Regions from separate parts of the Homo sapiens genome. Here region 2 is linked to region 1. The links come from fine-mapping of genetic effects on gene expression. Tissue or cell type: whole blood. Region 1 holds a variant in brackets; the other region holds the start of a gene. All regions are shown on one strand. Distances are between the middles of the regions.

Region 1 (8,172 bases):
CCTACCCTCCTGGGCCAACAAAGTCTCATCTTGTGCCTCGGTCCCCCAGTCTGGTGACAGCACCTCATATGACACCTCAGCCCTGGCAGGGCCTCACTGGCCTAGACTTGGGCAGGGGAGCTCCCCTCTGGGAGCCCCAGCTTTGCCGTCCCTGCCCCACTTGTATTGCAGGATGGTCACAGTGATCACTGGGCAGCAGCATTGAAGCCAGGAGGCTGCACTAGTGGCCCCAGGTCTAAATCTGGTCGTAGGGGTGCTGCTGAATTAGGTGACAACATATACAGACCAGGAAGTGTCATGTCAACATCTAATCCTGTTCCTGAGACAGTGGGCAACAGGCGCCATGGGCTGCATCCCCATGGGCTGCCCTGGCAGAGCTGAGCTACCGCGCCCCATGAGGGCCAGGCAGCCACCACAACCCCATCAGCACTGCCTGCCCGGCCCTGCGGGGCCTAGGGGTGGGTGGCCTCTGCATTATGCAAACATGAGTTCATCTTCTGATCACTCCTCCAAGTAACAGTTTGCATTTTAATCAGGGCCTTCCATGCTCTGACCTCGGCAGTGACTAACGGAAGCATTTCAGGCCCTGGGAAGGGCAGGAAGGGGATATTTAGGAGGAAGGCAGATACCAACATCACAAAAACTGTTCTCCTGAAAGGTGGCATCTTGCAGGGATGACCCAGCGCAGGCAGGGTCTCTCTGCCTGCTTCAGTGCAAAGGGCTTTTTGTGGAATGAGTGAACATCTGCCTGCCTCTCTCCCAGTTCTGCCTTGGGGAACAGGTGGATGCTGACTTCCTGTTCTGCCCGCCCCTCTGATGCCTCGTGATACTGTTTCTGGCTCCTGCTAAGATGTGGGACCAGGTTCAGCAAATCTCACTAGGACCTACCCCAGCAGAAACATCTCTCCCTTCTCCCACTCTACCTTTGCTAACATAGCCTCAGGTGGGTCCAGTGAGCATCTTTGCCCCCTAGAGGCTCATGCTGAGATGACAGTCACCTGAGCCCCAGACTGTCTCCTAGAAAGCACTGAAATGTGACAGTGTGTGTCCCTCCCCAGAAGCCAGCAAACCCAAGGCCTGTGGCAACACACAAGTGCCCTGAACGGATGGACAGTTGCACAAATGCACAAATGGGCCTCTGTGTGCGTTCCAGGGCTGCCAGGCACTTGAACAAACTTGACCTGGTTTTCCTTACTCTCTTGTCAGTCCTCTCCGGAAAAAGCTATCATCCCCATTATACAAAGGGGAAACTGAGGCTCAGAGAAGCAGAAAAAGCCCCCACTCGTGGCCAGCGATCTCACTTGCTTCTGGGTGTGGCCAAGCCACAGTGGGTCTCCTCCTCTCGGAGAAGCTGGGCTCAGGGAACACAGAGGTGGCACATGGGTGGATGGGAGTGGGCAGAGGTATGGCAGCAGGCAGGTCCCACAAATGCTGAGATCTGCCACGCTTGTGAACCCCGCAACACCTGATGCTGGGGTGGAGGTGGAGGGTCGTCTGGTTTATTGTTACCACTACTCTTTTCTACCACCGTAGTCCTTACAAGGCTTACAGCAGACAGATAACCAGGCAAGGCCCAGCGTGACCAGGCCCAGACTCCTTCCAGAAAAGACATGGCACAGGTACCCAGCAGTGTGGATACAGTGTCTTGAGCCTCACGGGGCACCTGTGGCTGGTCTGCTGTGGAACCATGAGCCAGTGTTGGGGAGGAGCAAGGTGGGGCGAGGCAGGCCTTGCCCAGGTTGGCAAAGGTGACCTGAGTCAGCCCAAGGCTGCTCCAGGCTAGTGAGTCACCCAGCTCCCCACGTGAATGGACATCACAGCCGCCCAGCCCTGTGCTGCTCGGACCTCAGCAAGGAACCACCTCAGGGGCGCCATGGAGAAGTTCTTGTCATGGTAGGCCCCAGCCTCCCAGGGGTCCTGCAGAGGTAGGGGCTCATGGTGGGAATCTGGGGGCAGCTAGGAGCTATGAAGGGCATCTGGGCCTCGGGGTCAGAGGACTGGGTCCAATCTGGGGCTCCCAACTCCTGGCTGCATGACCTCAAGCATGTCACTTCTCTGTAAAACTGGAACCACAAGCGCTGACTTGCAGGATCTGTGCAAACAACAAGCTCAGTGCCTGGCATATGAGTGGAGATCCATGGGGCTGGGTGGCTGCCACCCACTCCTGGGATCTCAGAGACCACCACTGGAAGACAGTCCCTAAAATTCAAAGGAGAAGCTCCAATCAGACTTGGGCACGTGCCCCTCAACACCTTCCCACTTGACTCCCCCAGCCTGTGCTCCCCTCCGTGGGCTGTGGCTCCACCTGGCTATGCCCTGCCATTGGACCCTACCCCATTTTGCATCCTCTGCTCTCAGCCTCTTCCTCTCCCTGGCTGGGGGATGTGAGCAGGAATGGCTCAATCAGGATATAATCGTTTTTAATTAACGTGCGGATCATTTCACAGCCTGATCTCCTTGGAGACCAGAGGGAAGACGGTCTTTTAAGATTTTCTTTTGCCTCCCTCAACCCCACCCCTCCCTGTCGAAGGCCTTCCCTCTCTTCGCCCACCCAGCCACAACCTTGAAGCAGCACAAAAGCCTGATGCCTGGATCCCTCCTGGGGCCATTAGGAGGAAACAGTGTGCTCACACACAGACATGCACACATGCATGCACGCGCACACACAAGACCGAGCTCGGGGGCACCCTCCCTTCCCCCCAGAAATGCACAAATGGGATCAGAGACTGACACCACAGAGGGGACACACACAGGGACGGACACACACACACACAGAGGCACGCATGCACAACACATGCCCAAGCTGGAAGGCACACAAACCCCTTAAGCAATACACAAGCAGGATCAGAGGCACACGGATGGTTGGTGTGCTGCAGGGGAGGGGGCAGAAAGTCCCTGTCCTCTGATGGGGAATACTGTCTCTGCTTCAACTCTTTCTTCCCTCTCTCTCTCCTTCCCTTCTCCCCGGGGGGTCTCCTGGGGTGAATCTCGGGCCAGAGAGAGATTTTAAGGTGCACCCCATCCCCCACACCACTCCTTCATACCTCATATCTGTGCCAACATCTGCCTCTGCTCCTGAACAGATCCAAGGTTAGGTCTCTGACAAGTAAACTGAGGCATGGGGCAAGGACGCAACCACTAGGGTCCCCAGAGACCTACAGTCCCACCCCCTCACTGCATCTGCTTTGGATCCTCAGCTTTTTGTCTGGAGAATGGGATGGCAAAGAGGAAGGGGAACTGTGGTGGGCAGGTGGGGCGGGCAACAGGGAGCCTGTAGCCGCCAGATCCCGTGAACACACCCAGTCGGGGGTGGCCCAGGAGGGCCGAGAAGCCTGTCTGGGGCTCCAGCTGGCGGCACCAGGGGTAAGCTTGGGGTCTCAGTCCCCCCATCTGTGAAATGGGCAGGGTCAGCCTTAAAGACCTCAGGAATCTTTTCAGATGCGAAAACCAACATGGCAAATCAGTAGCTGGGTCTTCGCTGCTGCATAGCCCAGCAACTGCTGTGTGACCTTGGGACTCGCTTCCCCTCTCTGGGCTCTGGCTTCCTCTTCTGTCAAAGGAGGGAGGTCAGATAGGTGATTCATTGCCAAGGCTCTTTTCGGCTCTGATGGAAGGTTCTAGATTGTGGGGAAGGAAAAATAGTGTCCCATTTATCCAAGGAAAACTAGAGAAGCCGTTTCTCCCACTGCAGGCAGTCGGAGCCTTCGGCATCAGCAGTGGCATTTTGAGCAAATCATTTTAAGTATCAAGAAAAGCTATACAAAATATATCCACTACATCATTCATCAGGAACATCCAGAATGTTGGACAAAAGGGGAATATTAAGTAAATTATGGTACATCCACTTGATTGGAAAAGCCTGAAGACATTAACCATGGTGTTTATGAAGCATTGGTTACAAAACAGGAAAAGGCTCACATTATGCCGGCAAAGCAAGCAGGATATACATCTGAATATAGAGAATGACGACAAAGTCTTTAAAAAACAAACCAACCACCGAGTCGAAAAGGACTGGGAAGAACTACATCAAAATACTAACATTGTCAGAGCCCTCTAAGACTGTCAATAACCTTATTTTTCTCTTTTTTTTTCAGCTTTTCTGTGAATGCTATTTTACAATATATATTTCAAAAAGGTTTAAAAAAAACCACAAGGGCTAGATGCTTCCAATTGA[G/A]AAACTTTCCCTTTTCATTCATTCACCACTGATTCATTCACTCCATTTAGCTGGACAAATACAGGACACTGTGAGTGACTGCTGTGTGCTAGGCCCTGGGGGCCCTAAGGAAGATAGGAAGAAAAAGGTTCTTGAAAACGGAAACTCGAGGTCTGGGGAAGGGAAGGCAGCCCCATAAATAAGGGGGTTGTGCCATAGGGCATGAGCAGCAGTGAATCCCTTGCTGGTTTCAGTCCTGCCTCCCAGAGCCTCACCCAGGCCTCCCTCAGCCACTAGGGTCTCATGGTCCAACCTATGGGTCAGACACCCACATTTAATGGCCAGGCCTGCAGCTGAGTGGGTGTGTGGGAAGGGTGGGGAGCAGGGCAAAGCCTTGCTCAGGAGTCTGGGCAAAGGGTAGAAGGGCCTCTCCCTTCCCTCTACCCCAGACCCATGGCGACTTCCCTTCCAGTTTCCGATGGCCCTGGCTTGTAACCCCTCTTCCCTCCGGGCCACAAGGCCACTGCTTTGCTGCCTGACCCTCTCTGGGCTCTCATTTCCGCCTCCCACAAGGTCCCTGAACAAGGCACCACCCAGCCGAGTCCTGTTGGGCTTTGAAGGGGGAGTCCAGGGTCTAGAATCTGCTAGCTCCAGTCAGCCGGTGTCACACTGTTAGCATGTCAGAGGGTCCAACAATGTTTCCCTGCTGTGTGGGGGCTGACAAATTTCTGGGGGAGGGTTAACTCTTTCTATTCCTGGACCAAGAGACAGAACAGCCTGAACACAGTCTAGCCGCCCCCCTCCCTCTCAAAAGGTGCCTCCCCTCTCCCCCAGGAATTCTCTTTTTAAGTAGGGAGAGGAATTGCCTTCACCTGCCTGGGTTGCCAGCTTGGTGTCTCTGGACCTGGCTCTCTACCCCAGGAAGAAAAAGGGGAGGGGGCACCTTGATAGCCTGGCTGCTTGCCTGGGAATCCAATTAAGGCTGATTTCCACGGGCTCTCCACCCCCGCAACGCCAGTCCAGCTAGCCCTTCGCTCTTCCACCTCTCCCCTTCCTCTGCATCCCCCGATGGAGCAAAATAATCTGGGGGCTTCTGCGTGCCGGGAAGCCTCTGACCCGGTGGTCCCCCCTTGGATTGAGTCCCCGCCTCAGAACTGCGGTCCCCAGAAATTTTCTGGGCTAGCATTCCCTTCCCATGGCCTCAATGGGAAAGGAGAAGTTCCCACCACTCTCCTCCCCCTTCATCCTCCTCTCCTCCCGGCCCTGAGGGAGGGGTCGAGGCGTCCGGATCTCCGGGTCACCGGAGCAGCGTCTGCTGAGGATCGCAGGAGACAAACACTTCGTCACACAAGCACAGCACCCTCGGGATCACCTCTTTCAGCCCGCATTGTACCAGAGGGGAGGAGGCTGAGGTTGGAGGGGCCCTCGACGTGCCTGAAGTCACCAGCCAATCACCAAGCCCAAGAGGGGCTGCCATCCACGACCCCCGGCCGCGAACCCAAGCCTGCCGCCTTCGCCGCGCCCACCCCCCAGCCCCCTCCCTGCCCCGGCGCCATCCCAGGTCGACGTCTCTAACCAAAACAAGCCCCTCCCCCAGGAGCCCCCTCCCCCTGCCCGAGGCCCAGGGTCAGCAGCCCCAGGAGGGACCTCCTCCCCACCCCACTCCCCCCGGCAGAGGTGCGAGATTTCATTGTCAGCCTGGCCACTCGACCGCGCGTGAGACTGGGGCGCAGGGCAGGGGGGCCACTGGGCAGGCTCTCGTGCGGGGAGTGGGGAGGGGTCTCCAGGGGAAGTGTTTGAAGCCACTCCTGCAGCTCTGTCCAGATCCGGAAGCCGCCGAGGAAGGGAGGAAGGCGGGGGTGGGGAGAGCGCGACCTTAAGCGCTGGCGGGCGGCGAGGAGGGGCCGCAGCGGCCCGAGGAAGCGCCTGGAGGCGTCAGGGGCGCCGAGTCCCCAGGGAGGCCGCGCTCTCGGGAAGTTTCCCATCGGTTGCCCGGAGCAGGATCGGACGCGCGGATCGCCCTCCCCGGTCCGACCAGCTTCGGGGCGCAGATTGCGAACTTGAACAGAACTCCTTCCTTCTCTGGCATCTCTCGCCTCCCCATCCGTGGCCACCAGCCCCGCCATCTCAGCCCCATGCCTTCCGCCAATACCACATTCGTCAAGACCGCTCACCAATGCTTTGTGGAGGAAAGGGGAGGGGGGAATCCCCAGCACAACCAAACTGTGGCCAAAAGCGGCCAAAAAAAAAAAAAAAAAAAGGAAAGAAAGAAATTCCTTCTTCTGAGACCGATTCCCTCAACCAGCGTGGAAAACCCCCAAACATGCAAATCCGCAACTCCAGCCAAGATCCTGGCGCCGCGGGAGGGGTGTCCGCGGCGGGCGGCGACCCCAGCCTGCAGCCCCGGACTCCGGGCAGGTCTGCGCGCGGCGGCGGGCCGGGGGCTCGGGGAGCCCTGGCGCCCACAGCAGCCCGCCGAAAACACAAAGCTCCGCCGCCAACAATACCTGCGGGCTCCTCCTGGGTCTCCCGGGCGCCGGCGCTGCGCGTCTCGCCGTCTCCCTTTCCCCCGCCGTCTCTCTCCTCTCGCGCACGCTCTCCCTCTCGCCTCTTCCAGAACGCGGTGGCCAGATGAGATCCTTGGGAGAAACAAATGTGAGCGCTCGCACGAATCCTTTCTCTCGCCAGCCGCTTGCAACGGCCCCAGGCTCGCTCCTTTCCCTCGCGCTCCCGCGCGCGCCGCGCCTCTCGCGCCCCGCGTTTCCTTCTTAGCAGCCCCTGCGAGCGCCCTCAGTAGCCATTATTCACAGGCCGCCGGGGGTCAGGAGGTAATTAGAGACGGCCCCGTGGCCGCATCCACTCGGTAAGCGCGATGCTGGCGCGGGGCGCGCGCGGGGAGGGGCGCGCGATGAGGGGGCTTGGCTGCGCGCAGCCCGCGCCCCAGACTCGGGGGAAGGGAGGAGGAGGAGGGGGCAGGGAAGGAGGAGGCGGGCGGGGGGGCGAGAGATGAGCTCGGGAAGGGAGCGGGAGGAGGGGGCGCCGGGGAGACGCTCCCTTGGCTCTCACCGCGGGGCCTCGGGGTCACCCGCTGCGAGGCTCCGACGCGCTTAGGGACGGGGGGTGTGAGTGTAAGAGTGCGCGCGCGCGCAGGCGTGTGTATGTCAAAGATAGAGGAGGGGAGGGAGGGAACGCTTTAATATTTTTCCAGTGACTTACGAGCCTGCGGGTGAGGTCTTGGCTGTGCGTTTAGGTCCGTGTGTGTATCAATGTGGCTGTATATTTCTGGTCTGTCCTACGAGTGAATGTCACGGGGCTTGGGGGGGGGGGTCTGGATACAAGCTAGTGAATGTGTTTCTGGGTCTCAGTTTGACTGAATGATGTGGCGCTGCGTGGGGCTGTGTCTGTGCGATTGTTTATAGGGGGGTTGTGTGACTCCGTGAGGTACTGCGTGGGTGGGATTGCGCCTGTGTGCGGTTGTGTGTATATGGGATTGTGCCTGCGTGGGGCTGAGTGTCCAGAGGGCAGTTGTGTGGCCATGTGGGCCTGTTTGCGAGTGGGCTGGTGGGTGTGTGGGGCCGTGGGGCTGCGCATGTAGGGGCAGTGCGCCTGTACGGGGCTTTGGGTTAACTTAAAGGGCTGTGGTGGGTATCTGCAGGCGGTTGCGTGTGTGGCTGGATCTGCGTGGGGTCTGAGGCCTGGCGGGTGGGGGTTAGTCCTCCTGGCGTCGGGGATCGCACCGCGGCAGAAGAGCCGCTTAAGGCGCCAACAGGCAGCGCCGGGGTCGCGGCGCAGCGCGACGTGTAGTAGCGGTGGGGCGTAGAGAGAAGGCGGAGAAGAGGGGGGCCTTCATCGCGCGCCTCCCCTAGCCGCATCAGAGACGCAGCTTGGAGATCCTGCCGCTTGCCGGCCCCGCGGTCCTAGAAGCACAGGGTTTGGGGGACCCTCCCCAGCTGGGGGAGACGCCTACTGGCCGGGAAGGCAGCGAGAACTGAGACTCGATGATTCTGGCGCAGCACAGA
Region 2 (8,172 bases), 46 kb after region 1:
TACAACAATGACGGCAGCAATCAGCATTTATTGGCAAAAGCACTGCTCTAAACTTCATATGGATTAACTCACTGCATCTTTACTTCAGTACCGTGAGGTCTGTACTGTTATTCTCCTGATTGTAAAGATGGGGACACTGAGGCACAGAGAGGTAAATGGCCTGTTCAGTATGTGGTGGAGCCAGGAGTCAACCCAGAACTTGCCCTGAAGGACTTCGCCACACAACCAACCTCTCCAAGACAAACGGAGAGGAAAAAGGAAGCTGCCGAGGAAGAGCCCACAGTATGTCCTCACTTGGGGAAAAAGAAAACTATGCATGGATTGGTATATGTAATATACATACATACATACATATATATATATATATATATATATATATATATATATGCATTAAGTGAGTAACAAAAAGTCTGGAAGGATACGTTCAAACTATTAACTGGGGTTACCTGCAGGGAGGGTGCCAAGGGAACTTTTACTTTTACTACATATATTTCTGGCTTATTTGCATTTTTCACCCAAGTATCCAAGTGTTACTTGAGTAGTTTAACATGAGAGGAATTATTAGGGTTGCAATTAACATTTGTTGCATGAATAGATGGCAAATTCATTTCCTAGGCTTGTTTTTTTCAAATTCTGGGTATGACCCATCAGTGGATTGCAAAATTAATTTCGTGGGTAGCAATCAGTAATTAAAAAAAAAACAAATACACAAGAACAAAAAGGATTACAGACCAGCAGACACAGTAAGGGAGTTATTTCAGTAAACTTTTGTTTCAGCTATATACAGTGTGACCTGTGTAGTTACCTACGATGTATTTCTTACTATAGGTCACGGGCAAGAATTTGAAAGCAATTGGTCTAGGCTTGGGAGTCTAAAGAGGAGTAAGGCTGGGTGCAGTGACTCACTCCTGTAATCCCAGCACTTTGGGAGGCCAAAGAGGGAGGATCGCTTGAGCCCAGGACTTCAAGACCAGCCATGGCAAGACCCCTGTCTCTAGAAAAAAAAAAAAATTTAAAATTAGCTACGTGTGGTGTCGGGCGCCTGTGATCCCAGCTACTCAGGAGACTGATGCTGGAGGATCGCTTGAGCCCTGGAGGTTGAGGCTGAAGTGAGCTGTGTTTGTGCCAAGGCACTCCAGCCTGGGCCACACAGCAAGACCCTGTCTCAAAAATAAAACAAAGAGGAGTAAGACAGGGTCCCTGCCTATGAGAGCCCCACAGTCTAGTGGAAGAGAAAGGCAGCTCCAGTACCCCTGAGTTCCCTTTATCTCCACAGAAGCCAGAGGGATGCTAGGCTGGTGGGAAAGGTCCTATTTTGCCCACTCCACAGTTGGCTTCTGGGGCCTGGATCTCACCTTGATACATTCTCCTCCTCTCCAAGGCTTTTGCTTGTGAGAGCTTTTGCCAGAGTTATGGGGCTGAGCCTGCCCTGAGATCAGAATGATGTGTCCACTTCTGTGTCACGCAAAAGGCCACTTTTCCTTGCTCCTGGGCCCCGAATATACCGGCTTGCCTGTCAAGAGGGGGAGGGGTGGGAAACTAGAAGATTCCTTTCCAGTTTCTAGATCCCGAGGGCCACGTCCCAGGAAAGCCTCTGAAAACCCAGCTGTGTGGTCAGCAGGGAGGGGCCACCATTCAGTCTGCAGCGAGGGCTGCCCCCCACCTGGGGTGGGCCTGACCCTGAGCAGAGCGAGGACTGTATGGAGAATGGAGGGGGGCAGGGGCAGGAAGAGAAGCAGAGCCCCCAGCTCGGGGCTCCCATCACGCTGGCGCCTCCACATCAGAGCTAGCCTAACCCACCCCCGCCTCTCCTCCCAGGGCAGCAGACAACTAAAAAAAGATAAAATAAAAAGAAGTAATTCCCCTGCTCTGACGTCAGCGCGAGGTCTTAACAGCCCGGCAGCGGCATGAAACTGGATTGCAACCAGATGTAATGCCCTTGAATTCTCAACACACTACTGCATTGGAAAGACATAAAAGGGGGGCGGGGGACAGTATTGGTGGGAGGAACCGTGCAGATCCCGAGTGGGTCCCTGAATCCGGGCCCGCCGAAACCGCGGGGAAGGCGGCGCGGGAGAGTGTGCGGCGCGCGGAGCAGCGCCCGGCCGGCTCCGCCATTCAGGCGCGCGGCCTCCCCTCCCCCAGCCCCCACCGGCGCATTGTTACACTCGCTCCCATCCATTCAGAGCCCGAGGCCCGCCGCGCCCCCGCCAGCCCGGGCTCCGCGCAGGAGAGCACCGCGGCAGCCCGCACTCCGGCCCCTGCGTGGACTGGATAACGACCAAGAGCCCCAAGAAAGAAAACTGCTAGCCGGGAAAACGGGCGCCCCAGGAAGCTGGGGCCGCGACGGCCTAGGGCCTGGCTGGTGTTTCGCTTCCCCTCCGCCCCACCACGGAGGCCCCTGGCGCGACCAGGCTCCAAATGTCACCCTCGCGTCCTGCCACCCCTTGTCCCCGCCGCACTCGGCCCCCATGTCCTCCTCCCGGGTTCCCTGCCTTCAAGGCGCGTGAGAGGGGGGGCCGGCCTCGAAAAGGGCGGCGGGCTGCGCCGCCGTCTGTGGGGCGCAAGGCTCGCGTGTCCGGGGCCCCCGCCCGTGACGTCATCCCCGAAGGGCCCGTGCCTCCCGGGCCTGGCCGCTACAGAGCTCCCCAGGTCGCGGGGGCCGCTTCCTGCCCGGCCTCGGGGCCTGCGCACAGGCCCCGGGGCCGCTGCCCGGGTAGGGACACCGCAGAGAGCCCGAGCACCCATCTCGCCACGCACGGCCTTCGCCGGCCCTGACTCCCAAGCGATGGCCACGCCGGGCCCGGGTCACGCATGGGGAAGTCAGCTCCCCGTCCCCCACCTCGGACGCACTCACAAAGCTCACCTCCGCCCCCGGCGCCCCGCGAATGCACCCCACGTCCCCACCCCACGCTCCGCAAAGACTCCGCGCCTCGGCGCAAGCAGATCCCTTGCCACACTCGCCCCTCGCGCCCCCATGCCCCCACCCGACCTCAGCTGGCCGCACATCCCCCAGAAGACCCTCAGCCGCGGCGCAGGGCGCCCCCACCCTGCAGCTCCCCAGACGTCCATCCGGTGACCTCGCGCACCCCCCACACCACACAAAGCAAGGACCCCGCGGACCCCACATCTCCACCCAGCGCGCGCGCTCGGCGTCCGAACCCGCCTCGGCTCATCACCCGGCCTAGGATCCCGACGCCTCGCGCCGCCCCCGCCCCGGGGCAGGATACACTGCGCCCCCCGCGCCCCGGCGCTCGCTGCTCACCTCGGCGCCCGCGCTCACTCGGGGGCCTTGGGTCTGGCGCTGCGACTTCGCGGCCCGGAGGCCTGGGTGGCCATGGGGGTCGGGGCGCGGCGGCCCGGCCGGCCCGCGGCCAGGCAGGAAGGAGGGTGGGCCGCGGCGCCCCCTCCTCGCGCCGGCGCTAGGGCCGCGGGCAGGGCGGCCTGCTCGGCTCGCCTCTCGCCCTCGCTGCACTCGCTCTCCCACTCGTCTCTCGGAGCCCAGCCGCGGGCGGGGGCGGCGCCCGGGGACGCGGGGAGCGGGCCTTGGCCGCGCACCCGGCCGGGCCTGCCTGGTGTCCGCGGGTGCCGCGAGGAATGCGATCCCCTCCGCACAGGAAGAGCGGACGAGCGGACGGGCGGGCGGGCGACGCGCGGGGGGAGAAGGAGAGCAAGAGCGCGAGGAAAAAAGTTCCCGGGCGGCCTGGCTGCGCTCGCTCGCGGCCCCGGGCGCCAGGTGGGCCGTGCGCGCCCCGACAGCACCCCCTGGCGGTCCGCGCGCCCCACTGCGCGCCCCCCGCCCGCTGGCCGGCCTGCGGGAGGGGGCCTCTGCGGTGGGATCCCGGTGCGGCCTGGGAGGACACTAGCGCCCTGCGTACAGGAGCTTCCAGCGTCAGGCCAGGCCCCCACCCTCACCCCACCATTAGCCCTCACCTGTGCCCACTTCTTTGCAGTTTGAGAAACATTTTCGATTTCAAAACTCCATTGGCTTCATGTAAACTTCATTTACTGGGCACCTGGCACCTTGCTGAGTCTTGAGGAATCAGCAGAGACAATGCGGTCCCTGCTGTCGTGGAGCTGGCATCCTGGTGGGAAGAGACAGACAGCAAACAAATGCTTAGATACATGACGAAGATAATTTTAGAGCAGTAAGTGCTAGGACGAAAATTAGCAGGTGAAGTGACGGCTAGGGCTCCTTGGCTGGGGGAGAGAGAAGGAGGCCTGTCTGTGCAAAGATCTAAATAGCAAGAGGAACCGCCATGGGTAGAGTCTGGGAAGAGCATTTTGTTCTTTTAGAGGCAGGGTCTTGCTGTGTTGCCCAGGCCGAACTTGAATTCCTGGCCTCAAACAGTCCTCCCACCTCAGCCTTCTGAGTAGCTGGGACTACAGGGGCCTGCCCTCCTGGGAAGAGCATCATTGGCAGAAAGAACATCAAGTGCAAAGGTCCTGAGGCAGGAGAGAACTTGGTGAGTAAGTGGAATTGTGAGGAGGCCGTCAGCAAGGGGACAAGTAATGGGCACATTGAAGTCAGAGCCATATCGGGAGGGCCAGAGCCTGCAGGGCTGCAGAGAGCTCAGTGAGGAATTTGTTTGCAATTCTAGTGCAAGGAAGGTAGCCACTGGCAGACTTTAAACAGAGGCATGTTGAATGAGAGAGTCCTTGCATGAAACTTAAGGTACAGACCTCGGAGCAATTTCATGCCTAGGTCTCTACTTGCCATAGCTCAGGTGGGAGCTCACTGCCACCTGCTTGGGAAGCCTCTCAGCCCCACCCAGGCTCTAGGGTCTGTGGGATATGACCCCATTAACAGCCCCATCGAAGCCTCCCTCATTTGTCCTTTGGTAGGGCAGAGGGGAGCTGGTCAAGGCATCAGAGCTTGTGGGTGACCTGGGACAAGTGAATCCTGCATCTGCAAAATAAGGTATTGTGATAGATGGGGGGCCCTCACTCTGTCCCAGGCCTGCTGTGCCCCTTCTGTGCATGGTCTCATTAGATCCTGGTGCCCCCTCTGTGAGGTCGGCTCATCACATTTTGTGGATGAGGAAACAGGCGCAGAGTGGTGAAGTCCCCTGTCCAGGTTCTCAAGCTACAGGACAGAATCAACACAGGTCCCCACAGTCCTTCCTACTGGACTTGGCTACCCGTCTCCCAGGGTGAATGTCAAGAGCAAGACAGAGCTGGATCCCAGTGCGAACTGTGTTGTTTTAAGCTTGTTTTAAGTGCGGTTTCTGGATGACAGATCTGGTTTATTTTTATTTATTTATTTATGTATTTTTTTTTTGAGACGGAGTTTTGCCCCTGTTGCCCTGCCTGGAGTGCAATGGTGCGATCTTGGCTCACCACAACCTCTGCCTCCCAGATTCAAGCAATTCTCCTGCCTCAGCCTCCCGAGTAGCTGGGATTACAGACATGCACCGCCACACCCACCTAATTTTGTATTTTTAGTAGAGACAGGGTTTCTCCATGTTGGTCAAGCTGATCTTGAACTCCTGACCTCAGGTGATCCACCTGCCTCGGACTCCCAAAGTGCTGAGATTTCAGACATGAGCTACCGCGCCTGGCAAATCTGGTTTCTAAACGTGGCTCCTCTATGCCCAGCTGGGTGGCTTTGGGCAAACTACTTAACTTGCTGAGCCTCCGTTTCCTCATCTGTAGAATGGGGATAATAGTACCTACCTCATGGGTCTGTTGAGAGGATTGAATGAGGTACGTGTGGAAAGCATTTAGCTCACAGCCTGGCATGCAGTAAGTGCTATTACTGCTTTAAGATGCTAGATTAATGGGAACAGTCCCTATCATCCATCCAGGGCTCCCAATCTCCACCCCGAGCTGGTCTCCTGCCCTCCCTGCCTTACCTTAACCTGCTCCTGAGTGGAGCCTAAGGGAAGGCTGGTTCTAGGGACCCCAGTGGGAGGCAAGACAAGGAGGTCTTGCTGGGAGATTTCTGGTTCCCACACAAGGGTCCCCAAGACTAGCTTCTCCACCTGGAGAGGGTGGGAGACCAGCTGGAACCCCAAGGAGAGTCAATTTTCTGGCCTTGGAATTAGGTATTTTTTGTTTTGAAAATTCCTTGGTATCAAGTTTACATGACTGGGGCCACTGGACCCTGTAGGCAGGGCTGGGGGTACAAAGAGGATCACAAGCCTGGCCTCTTTGGGAGCCATAGCTCAGGCACCACTCAAGGAAGCACATTTGTTCAAGGGATTAGCATTTCTGGATGTCAGTTCAGCGAAGGGTTGGAGGAGGTGGCGATTGAGGCAGACCTCAGAGGATGGGCAGGAAGGGAGCCCTGGGTTGCAAAGGGGATGGGTGTCCCAGAGAGTGAGAGGAGGAAGGAATATGCAGGCAGATGGAAGAGGGTGTGCGGTCAAGGTACTAACAACTGCTTTTGTGTGTGAGTGTGAATGTGTGTATATGTGTGTGTAAGACAGAGTCTCACTCTGTTGCCCAGGCTGGAGTGCAATGGTGTGATCATAGCTGACTGCAGCCTCAAACTCCTGAACTCAAGCAGTTCTCCCACCTCAGCCCCCTGAGTAACTGGGACCACAGGCATACACCACTATGCCTAGCCAATTTATTTTTTATAGAGATGGCATCTTGCTATGTTGCCCAGGCTGGTCTTGAATTCTGGGCTCAAGTGATCCTCCTGCCTTGGCCTCCCAAAGTGCTGGAATTACAAGTGTGAGCCACCACGCCTGACCAGAACTGCCACTTTTGAGTACCTACTGTGTGCCAGGTGCCTAGGGATGTTGTAACAAATTCCACAAGTGGCTTAAAATAACACAAATTAATTAATTAATTAATTTATTTATTTATTTATTTATTTATTTATGACAGAGTCTTGCTCTGTTGCCCAGGCTTGAGTGCAGTGGCGCAATCTTGGCTCACTGTAACCTCTGCCTCTCGGGTTCAAGTGATTCTCGTGCCTCTGCCTTCCAAGTAGCTGAGACCACAGGCACATACCACACCACCAAGCCTAGCTAATTTTTGTATTTTTTGTGGAGAGTGGGTTTCACCATGTTGCCCAGCCTAGACAGATTTATTCTTTACAGTTCTGGAGGTCAGAACTCCAAAATCAGTTTCACTGGGCTAAAGCCAAGGTGTGGGCTGGGCTAGCTCTCCTGGTGCCTCCAGGAGAGAATCTCTTCCTTGCCTTTTCCAATTTCTGGAGGTTGCCTGTGTTTCTCAGCTTGTGACCCCTTGGTGACCTCCAGAAGCTAGAACAGGCAAGAAAACAATTGCTTCCATTGTCCCAGCTTCTACTTCCTCCCTTGACCTTCCTGCCTCTGCTCATGAGGACCCTTGTGATTCCATTCCGGTCCACCTGGATAATCCAGGCTAATCCCTCCATCTCAAGAAGACTCTTAATTTATTTAATCACATCTGCAAGGACCCTCTGAATGCTGTCTTGCCTCAACTCATTTTACAGATAAGAAAATCAAGGCTCAGAGAGGTGAAGTCACTGATCCAAAGTCACACAGCAGGTGAGTTTAGTCACCCATTTCATGCATGGAGAGCCCACTGTGGGTCAGACACTGGGTTAGACCCTGGGTTGCAATGTGAAAGTTACCCATGAAGAGTGCTGTGGTGCCCAGGCATGCAGAGTAATGACCTAGTCCTGTCAAGGAATTCAGGGAAGGCTTCCTGGAGGAGGTGATTAGTGAGTTGAGCTTTCAAGAGTGATTTTCCTCTGCCTGCTTTAACCAGGGAGGCTTCTGAACAAACGAGGGCCCTTCCAGAGGAGGACAGCCATAGGCCTAACCATCCTGAGACTGCTCTGAATGATGCTGGTTGAGAGGGCTCAGTCTTCTCAGAAGAGAACTAGGAACTGATCAGGGATCACTGTCAGCAGAGCTAGCCCCAAGACACTTCTGCTGCTGACCCTGCTTGTCATCCTTAGTTGCACACAGGTAGAAGGGTGAGCAGGGGTGTGCACGCTATGCAATGCAGAGGCTCAATAAAGTCAGTGTTGGGGCAGAGTCTCAAACTTGCAGCTCAAAGGCCGAACTCAGGCTGCTAGGTTTGTTTTGATTGGAAAGCAGAGCAAAAAGTGAAAATTTTGAAGTTGACATACGTTGCCAGGTGCAGTGGCTCATGCCTGTAATTCCAGCACTTTGGGAGGCCAAGGCGGGAGGATCACTTGAGCCCAGAGTTCAAGGCTAGCCTGGGCAA

What was found. PIP is the estimated chance that this variant, and not a neighbour inherited with it, causes the effect.
Region 2: RAI1 starts here. The variant in region 1 is fine-mapped to the expression of RAI1 in whole blood (TOPMed, PIP above 0.99).

What each region holds. Positions count from the first base shown.
Region 1 is chr17:17,722,648-17,730,819 of GRCh38, reverse strand. RAI1 (retinoic acid induced 1) reads right to left here. Exons shown (of 6, transcript NM_030665.4): 2 at 6,661-6,792. Among named protein-coding and RNA genes, the nearest start is that of RAI1-AS1, 40 kb to the left of the region's middle. RefSeq lists silencers at 869-928, 958-1,156, 871-1,165 and an enhancer at 4,927-5,808. The variant G/A (reference allele first, on the strand shown) is at 4,175.
Region 2 is chr17:17,676,887-17,685,058 of GRCh38, reverse strand. RAI1 (retinoic acid induced 1) reads right to left here and starts at 3,601. Exons shown (of 6, transcript NM_030665.4): 1 at 3,266-3,601. It overlaps SMCR2 (Smith-Magenis syndrome chromosome region, candidate 2), which reads left to right and starts at 7,371. Exons shown (of 4, transcript NR_131243.2): 1 at 7,371-7,484. RefSeq lists silencers at 1,941-2,890, 2,877-3,049, 3,061-3,140, 3,201-3,340, 3,371-3,880 and an enhancer at 2,959-3,560.